2 separate regions of the Homo sapiens genome follow, and region 2 is linked to region 1. Evidence: fine-mapped QTL for protein levels in blood plasma. A gene starts in region 1. The other region holds a variant in brackets. All regions are shown on one strand. Distances are from middle to middle. Region 1 holds the start of C1RL (complement C1r subcomponent like). Region 2 holds the start of C1R (complement C1r).

Region 1 (8,514 bases):
TTGACGAGAAAAAATATTGCCCCGTGTCCGGGGCCACTCTCTGGGTGAAGTCTGCACATTCTTCCCATGTCTTCAGTGGTTTTCTCCAGGTCCTCTGGTTTCCTCCCACATCCCAAGCTGTGCCTGCTAGGCGACCTGGTATGTCTCCACGGTCCCAGTGTGAGTGAGTATGAGTGTGTGAGTGCGTCCTGAAACAGGATGGTGTCCTGTCCAGCACTGGTTCATGCCTTGCATCCTGAACTGCTGCAACAGGCTGTGGCCACCCGTGACCCCAAACTGGAATAATTGGGTAAATAATCTTATTCGTTTTTATTAACCTTTCTTACATGTAGGCATAGTTCACATGTATTTCAATATTTAATATTAGAAGTGTTTGGGGTCTTTATTTAGAGGTTTGGTGATGTTTCTGTGATCAGTAATTGCTGTAGAAACTTCACTCTTGTCTATATCAATTAGCTCTATGGCCAAATTGGTTTCATTCTATGTTATTTCTCTTAAAGTCATACTTTCCAAGAACCTATGGATGATTTTAAGTGAGGACTCACTGTACCAAAAACAGAAGGATTAAGTGAAAGTCTACCTGCCAAACAGTGAGCTGCATCTCCCTCCACCAGGCCCTTTTCTCAGCTTGTTGACCAGAATGCTGGGGTCCCTGAGCTGGAATCTGCAGGAGTCCTCTCAGGGGAAACTGGCTGCCCCCAAATAAAATGCTTTTACATCCTGACAGTTGGGAGGCCCCCAGTGGCACATCTAGGTCACCTTGTCGATAACCCTATTTTCAAACCTATCATTTGACAAATTTTAGCTATCCACACAGAACTTCCAATCAGTATTTTAGTGCTCCACTCTTTTTTTTTTTTCCTTGAGACAGAGACTCACTCTGCACCCCACAGGCTGTAGTGCAGTGGCCTGATCTCGGCTTACTACAACCTCCACCTCCCAGGTTCAAGCGATTCTTATGCCTCAGCCTCCCAAGTAGCTGGGATTACAGGCGTACACCACCATGCCTGCCTAATTTTTGTATTTTTAGTAGAGACGGGGTTTCACCATGTTGGCCAGGCTGGTCTCAAACTCCTGGCCTCAGGTGATCTGCCTGCCTCGGCCTCCCAAAGTGCTGGGATTACAGATGTGAGCCACTGCGCCCGGCCTTAAATATGAATGGACAGCCAAGTATTATCAGATATCGTAGGAAAGTCTCTAACACAAAAAGCAGAGACCAAAACAGACAAACGGTAAAAAAGAACTTGGATGAAATAGACCCACTATAGAGAACAGAAGAAACATCTAAAAATAATCCCAAAGGAGGGAAAGGAGTTGATACTGCATCAATGAAACAAGAACAATACTCTATAAAAAGGCACATTTAGAAAATTAGAACGAATCCTTAGAAATGAAATAATATGTCAGTGGAAAGAAACCATTAACTAAAAGATGGGGATTTAAAGATGAGAAAATTTCCCAGGAGGCAGAACAAAAGAGATGGTAAATAGAACAAAACAGATAACAAAGCTAGAGAATCAATCTAGAACATACAACAGCTGAATTATAGGAGAAAGAGAAACTAAGGAAATGAGATATCTGGAAATTATTTAAAAAATAGCACAAGAACATTCCTAGAATTGAAGGACTAGATTAAAAGAGGCTCTAGATTAAAAGAAATCTGCACAATGAGTAAAAAACCACGTGTATCAAGAGACATCATAATGAAAGTCCAGAATACTGGTAATAAGGAAAATATTCCAAAAGTTCTAGAGAGAGAAAACAAAGGATTAGGAATGATAAGGGCATCAAACTTCTTAACAAAGTCTAGACCTAGAAGACAATATCATCAAAATTCTGGAAGAAAAAGGTTTCCAATCTAGAATGCTATACCCAGATCAACTATCCCTCCACTGTGAGGGTAGAACTGAGACATTTAGACATATATAAGATCTTCTAAAATTCACTCTAAAATACCCTTTCTAAGGAAGCCACTGGTGAAGGTGCTCCTCCAAAATGGGAGAGTAAACCAAAAAAGAGAAAGGTATGGGATTCAGGTTCAGCACAGGTAAAGGAAATCCCCAGAAAGAGGGAGAAGAGAACTCCCAGAATGTGTGACGGCTTAGAGAGCAAAGAACTCAGGCTGTGAAAATAAATCGAGAGATCTTCAGGAGGGATGTCACCAATTAAAAGGAGGACCGATAGACTGAAATTCATGCTTGAGTATTTCAGAAGAAGATTTACACTCCTGGTTAAGAGTCTGGTGAGATTAGTTACAGAGACAACTAAGCAAACTAAAAAGCAAAACAAAAACAAACACCCCCCACCAAAAAACAAAACAAAACAAAACAAAAAAACTCCATGTAACTATTGACTCCTAGGAAACCCAAAAGTTGGAGAAGAAAAGAAATATAATTATTTTATGCTATGTGCTCAGATGTGAATATTTTACAGTCATAATAATGTAAATAATGAATAAAGATTTAACTAAAAATGATAATATAGGTAAACTGGCAGAATGAGGAGGGGAAATGTGGGTGGTGAAGACTGAAGACAGATAAAGCTAGTCCTTATCTTCTATACTGTAGTTGAGCATTAATAGAAAATACGTAAAAATGAAAGACAAATAAGCATGTTATTTATACATATGAAGTTAAAGACCAGATGAAACAGCTACATGAATTGGCAAATGACTGCTCCTGAGGAGCAGCACTCAGGGGCGGGGAGGAACAGCTTGGAGACTGCTGTTATTCATAAACCTTTTTAAAAACCTTTTTTTTTTTTTGGAGACAGGGTCTCACTCTGTCACCCAGGCTGGAGTACGGTGTCATGATCAGAGCTCACTGCAGCCTCTACCTTCCAGGCTCAAGTGATCCTCTCACTTCAGCGTCCCTTGTAGCTGGGACCACAGGTGCGTGCCACCACACTTGGCTAATTTTTAAATTTTTTTGTAGAGATGGGGTCTTGCTATGTTGCCCAGGCTGGTCTCAAATTCCTGGGCTCAAGTGCTTCTTTCGCCTCAGCCTCCCAAAGTGCTGGGACTACAGACATGAGCTACTGCGCCCAGCCTTAGAAAACTTTAATTAAAAAACAAAAAGTCTTACAACTATTATGTATCCATAATAATTAAAAATTTTAAAATTAAAAAATAAAGTTCAAAAATTTATGTCATTTTGATATAAATAAAATTTAAATCAAAAGATAATGTGCTCTTTTTATTTTTATTTATTATTTACTTATTTTTGAGATGGGGTCTTGCTATGTTGCTTAGGCTGGCCTTGAACCCTGGGCTCCAGCCCTCTGATCCTCCAGCCTCAGTCTCCTGACTATACTGCTGGGACTGCAAGCTTGCATCACTCCATCAAGTACTGTTTTTAAAATGTCCTTATTCTGAATAAGGCTTTGGCGTTAGAAGTTTTGTAATAGCTCTTCCAAGGTAAGTGTGAACGGTGACTTAATCTTTTGTTATTATTTGTGTCCAGCTTCCTCACCTGATAGAGCAGGCACTCAACAAATACATGATGACATATTTTTAACAACCAATATGTGCGTCCCTGCCCCTGGCTCCATAGATTTGCAAGATTTGTGTGTCCATTCATAAGCCTTCCAAACGCAGGGCCTGCTTGCTGCCCTCTTTGCTCTGTGGGGCCCAGATGGCAGCCCCGGAGGCGCTGGTGGGAGGCTGTGTCCTGGGGTCCACCACTGCTCCCCGGTAAGCCAAGCCCGACTGCCCCTACATGGAAAATTCATCCCTCCTCCAGATGGGGGATTCAGGGCACCGCCACTTCCCACAACCCCGGGAATCTCCCTGGCCACAGTCCTGGCGGGACCCCCCCCATCCCCAGCTCACTGTGACAGAGTCCCCTGCACAGTCCTGGGACGGCTCCAGGTCGAAGTCCTGGAAGACGAGCCTCACAGCAAAGCCCTCTGGAGCCTTGATGTCCGTGCTGCTCTCTTGGCCTTTGCCATACGGCTCTGGGTACCCGGGGGATGTCAGCTGCTGGGGTAGCTCTTGGGCCAAGAGGACGGAGCCCCGGGTTGGGCAAGCCTGGAGGACTCCCCAGAGAAGCAGCCACCACCTGTGAGTTGGGGGGAGGGCAAGGTGGGGCCGCGCAGCTATGGCCGGAAGCCTGTGGGTGTGGGAGGAGCGGGGGAGCCGCGCTAGGACTCAGAGGCCTCGCGAGGCAGGGCTAGAAGCTGTGGCCTCACCCTTGAGGCCCGGGCACTTCCCGTCTCCTCCCTTGCTCCCCTTCCTCACCCCAATCCCTACAGCCTCCCGCGCAGCCTGAGCTCTAGGATTGTGGGTTTTCCATCCTCCGAAGACATCACCTTTGCTCATCTCCCAGGAGAGTCTCGTCCAAAGGAGGGGGGTGCTTTCTGCTTCAGCAGATCCCACCCCACCCTGGGATCCGAGGGAGCAATGGTGGGGCGAGTGAGGGTCTGCCGTAAATATCCCCCGACCACCCTCTGGGAAGGTGCTAGAGGCCACAGGCAAATTTCAGTCTCCCCATGGAATATCTGCTGTGCTGCTGCTGCTGCTGCTGCTGGTGTGTGTATGTGGGGGAGGTGTGTGTGTGTGTGTGTGTGTGGGGGGGGGGGGGATGTGTGTGTGGGGGGGGTAGGGTGGGGGGAGGGAGGGTTTGCGGCCACCCACCCTTTCTCTTCCCCTCCCGTCCTCTTCCCTCCTCCTCTGCCGGGGCCACACTCACATTGCGCCTGGACAGCCTTTGGAGTGAGGGCTTCTCCAGAGATATTTCCCCCACACTCTGGGTCCAGGCATCTGGAACTGGACATCTGGGACCTGCGAGAGAACTGGCCCAGGATAGGGAACAAAAGGTGAAGGCCGGTGGGGGAGGAGGAAGTTCCTGGAAATGTTAAGCAACTCCACAGTTCCCCTTCTCCAATTCTCCGGGCTGAGCGCCACCTGCCGTCTGACTCAGGAACAGCGGGCCCGCCGCAGCTTAGGGGAGAAACGTCCAAAAACCTCGCTGGCCCTCAGAGGTCAGGGTGGCAGGGCACTGACTCGACCCTTTTGTACTATTTAACATTAATTTTTGCCATGTGTGTAGGATGGCTCCTTGTGAGTTATGGCTGCTGCCTTCAATCAGCCATGTCTCTTCCTCCCCGACCTTTCCGTTCACGACATACCCGGGGAGCCTCCCTCTTGTAGAATTGAAGTTTGTGATCCTTGAACTTGAGCTTTCTCTTCCTTTCCCTCCTCCCCAAGCAGGGGTGGGGGACATGCGCTTAGGTGGTCTTTTGAATCCTATTCACAACCTCTGGAGGCTGCTTGTCCAGCATGGTCAGGGCTGGGGTCGAGCCCAGGTGTCCCTCAGTCCCTAGTCCCAGTCATCACTCAAGCCGTCACTCAAGCTTCTTTAGGCAGATACTAGAGCCCCTGCCTGCTCTCACCGCTCCCCGAGGAAGGACACTCACCCACAGCTTGGTAGGAGGCCAGAAGGCTCTTATGGAGATGGGTGGTCCCATCCTCAGAGAAGGCAGGTGTGTGGAAGGCCTTACGTTGTATGCACACACAAATGCATGTGCGCGCGCACACACACCTCTCAGAGAAGAATCTATTGCTTCCCCCATTTTGCATATAGTAATATGGAGGCAAGTTACAGACCCAAACAGGGTGTGCTCTGCATCTTTGGTTTTTCTAGGCTAGAGAGATTTAGGAGAGCCACAGTCTATGGCTACAAGGAGATGATAAGAGAGTGATGGCCAGGACAGATGCAATGTCTCAGGTACAGTCTTGAGATCAAGCCTACCTGTCTGCCACACCCCAACCCCAAACACAACTGGGGATGATCTCCCATACCCATCTTCGAGGAGTGGGCCTCTCTGACTAGGACTTCTTTCCTCCCCTGAGACCACTGAAACCTGCTCTCTCATAGAACTCTTAGGGTCACCTGGAGCACCTTGGGAGCCAGAGATGCAGCCAAAGAGTGAACAATGGTACCAATCCCAAGACCCATGTGTTAAGAAGAAACCAGCCAAGACTCAGATCAGGATTGGGGAGTCCACCCCTCGTTTCCCTTCAGAGCATTATTTCCTTGTTTGCTAAGAGGGGCAGGAACTGGAAAACTCAGGCTAGCCCATCTGAGAAGACTTTCCTGGAGATGAGCTGGAGGAGGGAGGAGTAAGGCCTTGGAAGGAAACTCCAGGACAGGTAGGGTGACCGACTGTTCTGATTTGCGTGGGACCGACGGGTTTCCCAGGACATGAGGCTTTCCGTTTTAAAATGAGGGAAGTTCTGGGCAAGCCAGGACTGGTGGTCACCCTAAATGGATAGGGGTTAAAGTGCTGGAGTGAGGCTGGGTGAGAAAGAGGACAGGGAGCCAAGAGGGTGGGGAGGCAGTGATGCACCGGCAGCCCCAGGTGACTGGGCAGTCCAGGGTCTGGATGTGGTCCCTGTTTGGGGTAATCCAGCACTCTGAAGATGAGGGCCCACCTTGGTCTCACCTAGGTGGCGTGTGCGGCTGCAGCATGAGTTAGGGTCAAGGGCAAGGGGAGGAATGGCTGGTGATGTGAGACTGGAGAAGGAGCTGATGGCTCTGTGCATAGCTGGTCACTGCAGGCCCCTGTGGGCTAGGGCTGAGCTGTGCCCCGCTGTGTTTTCAGCACCACCTCCCCTACACTGGGACCTCGTCTCTAACTGGCAGAGTGGTCAATGAAAAAAAGGGCATGCCTTGGCACATCATGGTCAAACTGCTAAAAGCCAAAGACAAGAGAAAATCTTTTCTTTTTTTTAATCCCATCCTAAAGACTAGACAGAACAATATTTTCAATGTCACTCTTTTCTCATCAAAACCAATATAGACCAGAAGACAGTGGAATATCTCTAAAATGCTGAAGGAAAAAAAAAGTCAACTCAGAATTGTTTTTCTAGTGAAAGTATTCTTCCAGAATGAAGATGAAATAAAGCTATTTTCAGATAAAAGAAAACAGAGATTCTTGTCGCCAGCAGACCTCCACTATGAGAAGCGCTAAAGAAAGTTCTTTAGGACGGGCACGATAGCTCACGCCTATAATCCCAGCATTTTGGGAGGCCAAGGTGGGAGGATTGCTTGAGCTCGGAAGATGGAGGCTGCAGTGAGCCATGACGGTGCCACTGCACTCCAGCTTGGGTGACAGAGTGAGACGCTGTCTCAAATTGGAAGAGCAGAGCTGCAGACAGGAATAAGAAGAACGGTAAATTTGAAGGTAAATATAAAATACGATTTTCTTTTTAATGTCTTTAAAATATGTAGAACTGTTCCAGGCAAAAATTATAACATTGTATTGTGAGGTTTATAACATATGTAGCTGTAACATATATGAAGACTGTAGTATAAAGCAGGGGTCCCCAACCCCTGAGCCGTGGACCAGTATTGGAGGTGAGTGGTGGTGAGCAAGCAAAGCTTCATCTGTATTTGTAGCTGCTTCCCATCACTCACATTACCATCTGAACTTCGTCTTCTGTCAGCAGCAGCAGCAGCAGCAGCATTAGATTCTCATAGGGGCACGAACCCTATTGTGAACTATGCATGGAGGGATCTAGGCTGTGTGCTCCTTATGAGAATCTAATGCCTGGTGACCTGTCACTGTCTCCTATCACCCCTAGATGGGACCGTCTAGTTGCAAGAAAACAAGCTCAGGGCTCCCACTGATTCTACATTACGGTGAGTTGTATAATTATTAATATTTCATTATATATTACAATAACAATAATAATAGAAAGAAAACATGCAATGAATGTAATGTGTTTGAACTATCCTGAAACCATCTCCCTCTGGCCCCATCCCTGGTTTGTGGAAAAACCGTTTTCCATGAAGCCAGTCCCTTGTGCCAAAAAGGGTGGGGACTGCTGGTATAGAGGACAAGGGGGTGGACTCATGGTTACAAGTTTCCTTCATTTCACATGAAGTGGTACAATAGGAACTGAGAAAACTGGAGTTTAGGATGCAGACTAATTCCCAGAGCAGCGGGTCTCCACCCTGTGGTGTGGGAAGACCCACAGGCCCTAAGATCCTTTCACGGGGTCTGTGAGGTAACAAAATGACTTTCATAAAAATACTCAGATGTTCTTTGCTTTTTTCCCTCTCATTCTGTCATGGTATATGGTGGATTTACAGAGGCTACGTGATGTGCAATGATTCATCCGTGGCAGTGAGCGGGATGCGTGCTTGTGTATCTTTGTGATTTAAAATGTTCTCAATTTTGATTTCTAGTACAGTGACTATTAATAGATATACCCTACATAAGCCAAAGCTCTCTGGAGTTCTCAATAATTTTTTAAGGGTATAAAGTTTGAGAACAGTTGCCCTAGGGTGACTACTAGTAGAAAAAAGCAAAGAAGTATAGCTGAAAGGCCGATGTAGAAATGAAAATGGATGTCTGAATTTGGGGGGACTTTTTTCTAATAGGGTAACCTATTAGAAATCATCCTGGTCTGTCTAGAAATGAGGTTTTCCTAGGACATGAGGTTTTCAACACTAAAACCAGTTAAGTTCCCCGACACGCCAGGACAGTTGGTCACCTTATTGCTAACAC
Region 2 (8,001 bases), 12 kb before region 1:
CTGTGTGCAGAGGGAGCCCGCGTCATGCACAGCAGGGAGGGGAGGGTTTTCTGTGGAGTGGAGGGGGGACCATTCCCGGAGGAATGTTGGAGGGAATGAACTATTTGCATAAACAAAAGATCTGAGTTTCCACTTTAATTTAGTTTTGGTTTTGAAATCCCTGTTTGTGGTGCCACCTGCTGGTCGGTGAGGGAAAGGGCTAAGGAGACGGGAGTCTGGCTTTTTAGGGCCCGGGGAGCCTTGGGTTGGAGGCCCAGATGTCTCAGTCTCTAAATCTGATCAGCTTCTCCCTTCTTCCAAGACTTTCCTGGGGGCTGCTGCTGTGTTTACAAGGTTCCTACCAAAGCAGTGGGAGACCACAGGTGGTGGTGAATTCTCTTTTCTGGGCTGTCCTTTCCCATTGACCCTGTTCTTCCTGCCCTCATTCAGCCCACAGCCCTGGTCCAAGAATGGCCCGGGTTTCAATGCCCAGGACGTAATGATAGGAACACTGGGGCAGAGGAGGGTGTGTGGGAGCGGGCAGAGGAGAGAGGAGCTTGGTTGCCTTGGGGCCCTGGCCTGCTTTAGCCATGAATGACACTTGGACATAGAATAGGGTTGGCCATGTCAGGGCAACCCTAAATCAGCCCTGGGTTTGAGACCCTCTGGGGCGGCTGCGGAGGGGGTAAAATGTCCCCATCTCCTTAGCATCTGCTCAACACAACTGCCAGGGCTGAAGCTAAGGATGCGGGTGTGGAGCAAGAGGGACTCGGTTTTTCTGAGATGAAGCCAGGCCCCTGGGAGGGAGGAGGGACCCTAGTCTCTCCTGTCCATCAGGCCATAGTGTCCTGCTTTAAAACTTTTGCTCTTGGCCACGTGTGGTGGCTCATGCCTGTGATGCCAGCACTTTTCGAGGCCAGGGTGGGAAGATCTCTTGAGCCCAGGAGTTCGAAACCAGCCTGGGCAACATAGTGAGATCTCGTCTCTAAAAGTTAAAATAAATTAAAAAACAATTTCATTGTTTTTGGAAGGCTTTCTTCATCAACTCTCCATGGCACCAAATATCTGATGGCACTTCATCCCACGGAGGGGCTTGGGCTGCAGAGCAGGACTCTGCGTTCTTAAGCCTTTGTAGGCTGTTCTGCTTGTTTCCCTTATTAGATGAATCCCTCCAACCTCCACCCTTCTGCCCCCACCCCCGTTCATCCATTTATGGGCTACCTGTTTAATGTGCAAGACACTTTCCCAGGCAATAGATTGCAAGAATTCACAGAGCTGATGCAGTTCCCCATCAGGCAGTGACCACATCATCAGTAGTTAGACAGCAGGCACACAGAAGGTGCAAGATCCACCAACGCTTGGAGGGTTTCTCCAGCAGGCCTGTGTGTCAGAGCTGAGGACTGAACCTAACGGAGGGCTGGTCTGTGATGGGATCAGCATATGATCCACAGCCTTGTTAGATCAGGAAAGACAAAAGATGGGGGAGAAGGAAAAGCACCAGATCAGAGGACGAGAAGGAAGGGGAATCTCGTCTAACAAACTGCACATTAATATCCTAGCAGCAGTTTGTGTGTGTGTGTGTGTGTGCACGCGCGCATGTGCCGTATGTTCATAATGGAGGCAGAGGGAACAGGTAAGGAGGTAAGTCTTAGCTGAAGCTCTTCCGTCCATCCTAGGGATTCTCAGTTCTGCGTTGGCATTGTGCAACACGCTTGGAGAGCGGCAAACCTGGATGTCATTAGCTCAGTCCCAGCCCTGTCTCCACTCTGCCCAACCATTCAAAATAACCTTTACTCACACATTTTTGTTATGTCCTTGACTTTGTTTTGTCCTTGACTCATACCAAGAAGGAAAAAAATGCCATATGAAATGCTGCTGCGTTTGTTTTAAAACAATTATTGAGGATATAGTCGGTTACAGTGTTTGTTCCTTTAAGGATTTGATTCTTGGGAAAAAGATTTCTCTCTTAAAGTAGTGGTAGGTTTTCCTCTGTGGATATGTCTCTATCGCTAGCTCATCTATCTCCATCATCTCTATCTCTTACCTCCCTCTCTCTCTCATTGTCGATATCTCTATCTCTAGACAGAGACAGCGATGGAGATGTAGAGATATAGATCTAGACATACACATATAAATATAGGTATATATATATTTTTTTGCCTTGGCAGGGAGAAACTCATATCATTTTTTGCAATCATAAAAATAAGCAAAATAAAATAAAAACATTTCATGCTCATTAAACAAATTTTAGCCAATAGAGAATAGTGGAAAACCAAACAGCCAAAATCTTATCAATAAAACCACCTCTGTTTAGTATTTTGAGAGAATTATTATTATATTTTTGGCGATGGGGTTTCACTATGTTGCTTAGGCTGGACTTCAACTCCTGGGCTCAAGCGATCCTCTTGCATCAGCCTCCTGAGTGGCTGGGGGTATAAGTGTGCATCATTGCACCTGCCTTTTGGGAATATTTTTAATAATCTTTTGTACTGTATGTGGGTGTAAAAAACAGAAGTAATCACATGTATGTACAACTTTGAATCCTGCCATTTTTTAGAGATAAATTTAACCTTTGACCATATAGCAACTTGACTCTTGATGCTAACAAATTACCTCTCTTCTCTCTTTTATGGTGTTTATTTTCTATTTCCATTGAACAGTTGTATTTTATTTGTGTCTTTCACTGTAAATCACCTCCAATCTTTTTTTTTTGGGGGGGATGAAGTCTTGGTCTGTCCGCAGGCTGGAGTGCAGTGGCGTGATCTTAGCTCACTGCAACCTCCGCCTCCCAGGTTCAAGTGATTCTCCTGCCTCAGCCTCCCGAGTAGCTGGGACTACAGGCACGTGTCACCACGCCCGGCTAATTTTTGTATTTTTAGTAGAGATGGGGTTTCACCATGTTGGCCAGGATGGGCTGGATCTCCTGACCTCGTGATCCACCCACCTCGGACTCCTAAGGTGTTGGGATTACAGGCGTGAGCCACTGCGCCCGGCCCATCACCTCCAGGTTTTACTAAAAATTAAAGAGTTGGTCCTCTCAGGTGGAGCAGTTCCCCTGATGATAGGGGCACAGGTGGGGTGTCTGCAAGAACTTCAGTCCAGTGCTGGGCTCACCTGGCTTCTGCAGGAGATGGGGCCATTAGGAAAGTGTGAGCTAGAGGATACCATTTTCGCAGAAGCAGGAATTCCCAGGGAGGGAAAATGGTAAGGATGTGGGGGCTGGGAGGGAAAGCGGGTGACACAGCAGGTTAGAGGAGGGTTGAGAAGTATTGCAGCACACTGGGAAGAGCACAGTCTCTGCAGTCACACACCAGCTGTGGGACTTGGGCAAGTCCCTTTATCCCCTGAGCCTCAGTTTCCTCATTTGTCACACATAGATAATAACACATCCTTTGCAAATATGGTATGAGGATTAAGTGAAATAACAGGTGAAGCACCTGGCATATAGAGGACATAAAATAAAAAAGGAGCTGTTTCTATAATTGCATCTTGGAGCTGCAGAATAGCTTGAATATTTGAAGGTCAACTAAAGGGTCTTAGGAATGTTTCAGAAATGCAATGCAATGAAAACCCCTTCCTCCATACTCTAATAGCGGGTGAGTAGCTGACTCTTCCACAGGTGAGTATAAAAGCTGTGTCAACAGATGAAGTAGGGGAAGGCGGTTCTAAGGACATTCAAGGCGAAAGTTGTTGAGATGTACAGGCTTCCCGGGGCCTAGTGCATGAGCACAGGGAGGTAGAGGGTGAGGAGGAGCGGTCTGTGGGACTCTGCTTCCTGTCTGGGATGGGGCGGGCTTGCCGGGTGGGGGTTTCTCTTGCAGTGGCTTGGTGCAACAGTGATGTGAATAGGATTTCCCTGCCTCCCCCAACCCCCCACCCCCAACCCCTACCCCAGTGTTCAGTCCTCACTCCAGGCCCTCTGTTGCCTGGGGCCTCCACTGTGCTGGTCAGTCCCTGTTCAAGCCCCCAGGGTCAATTCTTGCCATTCATCACTCCCTTGATCCAGTCCACATAGCTGAGCACCTTGGTGTAGAAGTCATACCCTTCGCCACACCCTATGCCCCAGGACACAATGCCCGTGGCCACCCAGTGATGGGCATGATTGTCCCATACCACATAGACGCTGCCACTGTCCCCCTGGCAGACACTGTGCCTTTGCGTCTCATCCCCAACACAGAACATATTGTCAGAAAACACCTCGGGTCTCTGTCTCTTTTGGAGCCAGGCGTTGCAGGCCTCCCTGGGAGCTACAGGCAGCCTCGAGTACTTCAGCTCAGTAGTTAGCCAGCCCATCTCCATGCCAAACCCACTGACGTAGCCCAACAAGCCGCTGCGGTAGAGGGTCTCATTATCGGGCAGACAGACCGGGAGGACGTTGGGGCCCAGGGGGATGCTGTGCTGCAGCTCCAGGAGGGCGATGTCCCCGCTAAAGTTATGGGACTCATTCTGACGGTAGTCGGGGTGCACAACGACACGGTGGACAGGGTGGTTCCCCAGTTTCAGCATCTCATCTATGGCTGTGTGGCCCAAGAACACATTCACACTCTGGTTCTTCCTGAGAGAAACACTGTCCTTGGGGTAGATGGTGTGGGCAGCAGTGAGGATCCATCTGTCCCCCAGCAGGGCCCCGCCCCCACGGCCGTGGATACTGGTGAAGGCTTGCCAGGGGAAGTTGCCCAGCTTGGCTCTGGAAGAACCGAGGGTCGTCTGATTCTGGGCAATGGGGGTGACTGGCCGTCCGCAGACTGGGAGAGAGGCGGGGTAGGGGTGACAGTCAGCAGCTGCATCTAGACACACTGATTAAAGACCTGCTTCTCTGAAGTGCTGTGGTAGGGGACGCGTGAAGAG[A/G]CTCTGGGATCAGGACGTTTTTTTTTTTTTTTTGATATCGAGTTTCGCTCTTGTTGCCCAGACTGGAGCGTACTTGCGCGATCTCGGCTCACTGCAACCTCCGCCTCCTGCGCTCAAGCAATTCTGCCTCAGCCTCCCGAGTAGCTGGGATTACAGGCACCGACCACTACGCCCGGCTAATTTTTGTGTATTTTTTAGTAGAGACGGGGTTTCATCATGTGGGCCAGGCTGGTCTGAAACTCCTGACCTCAGTGTTCCACCCGCCTCTGCCTCCCAAAGTGCTGGGATTACAGGCGTGAGGCACCGCGCCTGGCCGGGATCAGGACTCTTATACTGATGCAGACCCACGGTGTAGACCATGTGGGCAGACAAGGACAGGTAATCAATGCCAAGTGTACGGGGCACCCATCCTGCATGGGACTCAGGACAGTGGACTGAGGGTAGGGAGCACAGATGAGCACATGTTTGGGGCTGGTTCTGCAGGGCTCTCCTTCCTGCCTCCTCAGAGGCATTAAAGCCATTCGTTTGGACCATCCTGGGCCCCCATACTACAGGCAGAGTCTGTTTCAGTGCCTCCTGCCTCAGTTTTGTGTCACTTCCTCATTTGTAACATCTCCCACTACCACCTGCCCTCCAAACCATCCCCAAAGCACTGCGAGTGTTCAGGCTACCCTTAGAGTTTTCCGTGGATCAGATTGGGTTAAGAAGGCAATGCTTTCGGCCGGGCGCGGTGGCTCACGCCTGTAATCCCAGCACTCTGGGAGGCCGAGATGGGCGGATCACGAGGTCAGGAGATCGAGACCATCCTGGCTAACCCGGTGAAACCCCGTCTCTACTAAAAAATACAAAAAAAAATTAGCCGGCCGTGGTGGCGGGCGCCTGTAGTCCCAGCTATTCGGGAGGCTGAGGCAGGAGAATGGCTTGAACCCGGGAGGCGGAGCTTGCAGTGAACCGAGATCGCGCCACTGCACTCCAGCCTGGGCGACAGAGCGAGACTCTGTCTCAAAACAAACAAACAAACAAAACAAAAGAAGGCAATGCTTTCATTCAAAAGCGTGGATCTCAAAAATGGTGGGCTTGAACCCTCATGTATTGCCGGTGAGATGTAACTTGGTGCTGCTGCTGTTGAAGACAGTTTGGTGGTTCCTCAAAAAGTTAAACAGAATTATTATACAATCCAGCAAGTCTACTGCTAGGTATATACCCAGGAGATTTAGAAACGTACGTTGATATAAAAACTTGTACACAAATGCTCATAGCAGCATCATTCATAATAGGCAAGAAATAGAGACAACCCAAATGTCCATCAGTTGAATGAATAAACAAAATGGCGTATCCATAGAAAGGAGTATTATTTAGCCATAAAAATGAAATACTGATGGATGCTATAACAGGAATGAACCTTGAAAACATTACGCTAACTGAAAGAAGCCAGACAGAAATGGCCACACATTATATGATTCCACTGATATAAAATCCATAAAGGCAAATCCATAGAGATAGAAGATTAGTGGTTGTCAGGGGAGAGTTGGAGGTACTGGGCTGTTTTGGGGAAGGTAATGGAAATGTTCTGGAATTAGTGGTAATGGTTTCACAACATTGTGAACACACTAAACATTACTGGATTGTACTGTTTAAAGTGGTTAAGGCTGGGCGCAGTGGCCCAAGCCTGTAATCCCAGCACTTTGGGAGGCTGAGGCGGGACGATCACCTGAGGTCAGGAGTTCAAGACCAGCCTGACCAACGTGGTGAAACCCTGTCTCTACTAAAAATACAAAAAAAAAAAAAAAATAAAATAAAATAAAAAAATGAGCTGGGCATAGTGGCAGGTGCCTGTAATCCCAGCTACTCAGGAGGCTGAGGCAGGAGAATCGCTTGAACCCAGGAGATGGAGGTTGCAGTGAACCAAGATTGTGCCGTTGCACTTCAGTCTGGGCGACAAGAGAGAAACTCCATCCCAAAAAAAAAAAAAAAAAAAAAAAAAAAAAGTGAGCCACTGCGCCCAGCCATGAATTTTATCTCAATAATTTTTTTTAAAATGGTTGACTGTCTGGCACTGTGTGGCATCTAGGTAGGGAGATATTTTAGGAATAGAGAGCCTGTCGGTATATCCTTAAAATGTATGGCACAAAAAGAGGGTTTTCTGTTACTTCAGCTTGTTGGTCTCTCTTCCTCCTTTTCTAGTCCATCTCATGAACGTCCTTCATGCTTTTCCTCAGATATATCTTGACCCCTGAAGAATGAGGAACAAGCTCCCTGCCTGTTCTTTTCTGGGCCTTCTTGATTGCCCTGTTCTTCCTCACCTTCTGCTTCTTATCTTCCTTTCTATTCTAAGGCTTTCCTTTAACCCCTGTGTCCTGTAGGTCCCAGTTGCAGCTGAGGCTTGTTGGGGGAATGGTGCTAGCAGGTGGCTACTCACCAGGCATACACTGAAGAACCTCCTCCCCATCCTGTCTGTCTTTCCAGGTCCCTGGGGTTGCACAGGTGAGTGCCCCTGTGGCGTAAATGAGGAGAGGCAAAGAAATAGGCTCGGAGTTGAAGCTGTTGGTTAACGAAGCAGGTGCTCAGAGGGTGTCAGGCATTTGGGTGGGAATGAGGTGGATGGAAGCCACCCCTCGGCAGGTGGGGACTCACCTGCTGCCGCGGCCTGATAATAGGGCTCCTGGCAGTGGTTCTGGACCTTGGCAGGGTTGTCTCCAGGTGCGTTGATGGCCTCAGAGCCCCTGCTGGCCTCGCTGATGGGCTGACTATAGTTCACAGCTATAGGAAAACAGCACCTAGCACAGACTTGCCAACTGGCAACCCAGGGGCTGATTCTGGCCCATGGCTATACTTGGTTTGACTTGCACAGTGTTTTATTTTTTATTTTTAGTTTTTTTAAAACATTTGAGTTCGTTTTCACTGATCAGATTGACAACACTCAAAGAGTTTGAAGATAACTGTGACAAGCAGGGTAGGGGGGAACAGGCACTTCCATATATGTTTGATAGGTATGTAAATTAGCAAAACCGTTTTGGAGAAAATTTTAGCAATATCAAAATTTAAAATGCAAATATTTTTTAACCTACTCCATTTCTAAAAATTTAGTCTAAAGATATTCTCACACATGTGCTCAAAGATGTAAATGCAAGGATATGCACAGTAGCACCATGTGTGGCAGCAAAGTATCTATCA

Evidence for each region. PIP is the chance, under the fine-mapping model, that this variant and not a neighbour inherited with it causes the effect. The UK Biobank Pharma Proteomics Project read protein levels with antibody pairs (Olink). The fine-mapping took linkage between variants from a reference panel, not from the people measured, so its PIPs are less certain.
Region 2: its variant is fine-mapped to the plasma level of the C1RL protein (UK Biobank, PIP above 0.99).

Annotation. Positions count from the first base shown.
Region 1 is chr12:7,104,422-7,112,935 of GRCh38, forward strand. C1RL (complement C1r subcomponent like) reads right to left here and starts at 4,793. Exons shown (of 6, transcript NM_016546.4): 1 at 4,689-4,793; 2 at 3,830-4,058. The coding sequence starts at 4,759. C1RL-AS1 (C1RL antisense RNA 1) reads left to right here and starts at 3,887. Exons shown (of 12, transcript NR_026947.1): 1 at 3,887-4,060; 2 at 4,252-4,526; 3 at 5,643-5,726; 4 at 5,877-6,151; 5 at 6,604-7,185; 6 at 7,586-7,643. RefSeq lists enhancers at 3,813-5,012, 3,845-4,014, 4,655-4,734.
Region 2 is chr12:7,092,440-7,100,440 of GRCh38, forward strand. It overlaps C1R (complement C1r), which reads right to left and starts at 6. Exons shown (of 11, transcript NM_001733.7): 1 at 1-6. It overlaps C1RL (complement C1r subcomponent like), which reads right to left. Exons shown (of 6, transcript NM_016546.4): 4 at 7,462-7,587; 5 at 7,247-7,321; 6 at 2,115-4,724. The coding sequence ends at 3,952. RefSeq lists an enhancer at 54-348. The variant A/G (reference allele first, on the strand shown) is at 4,828.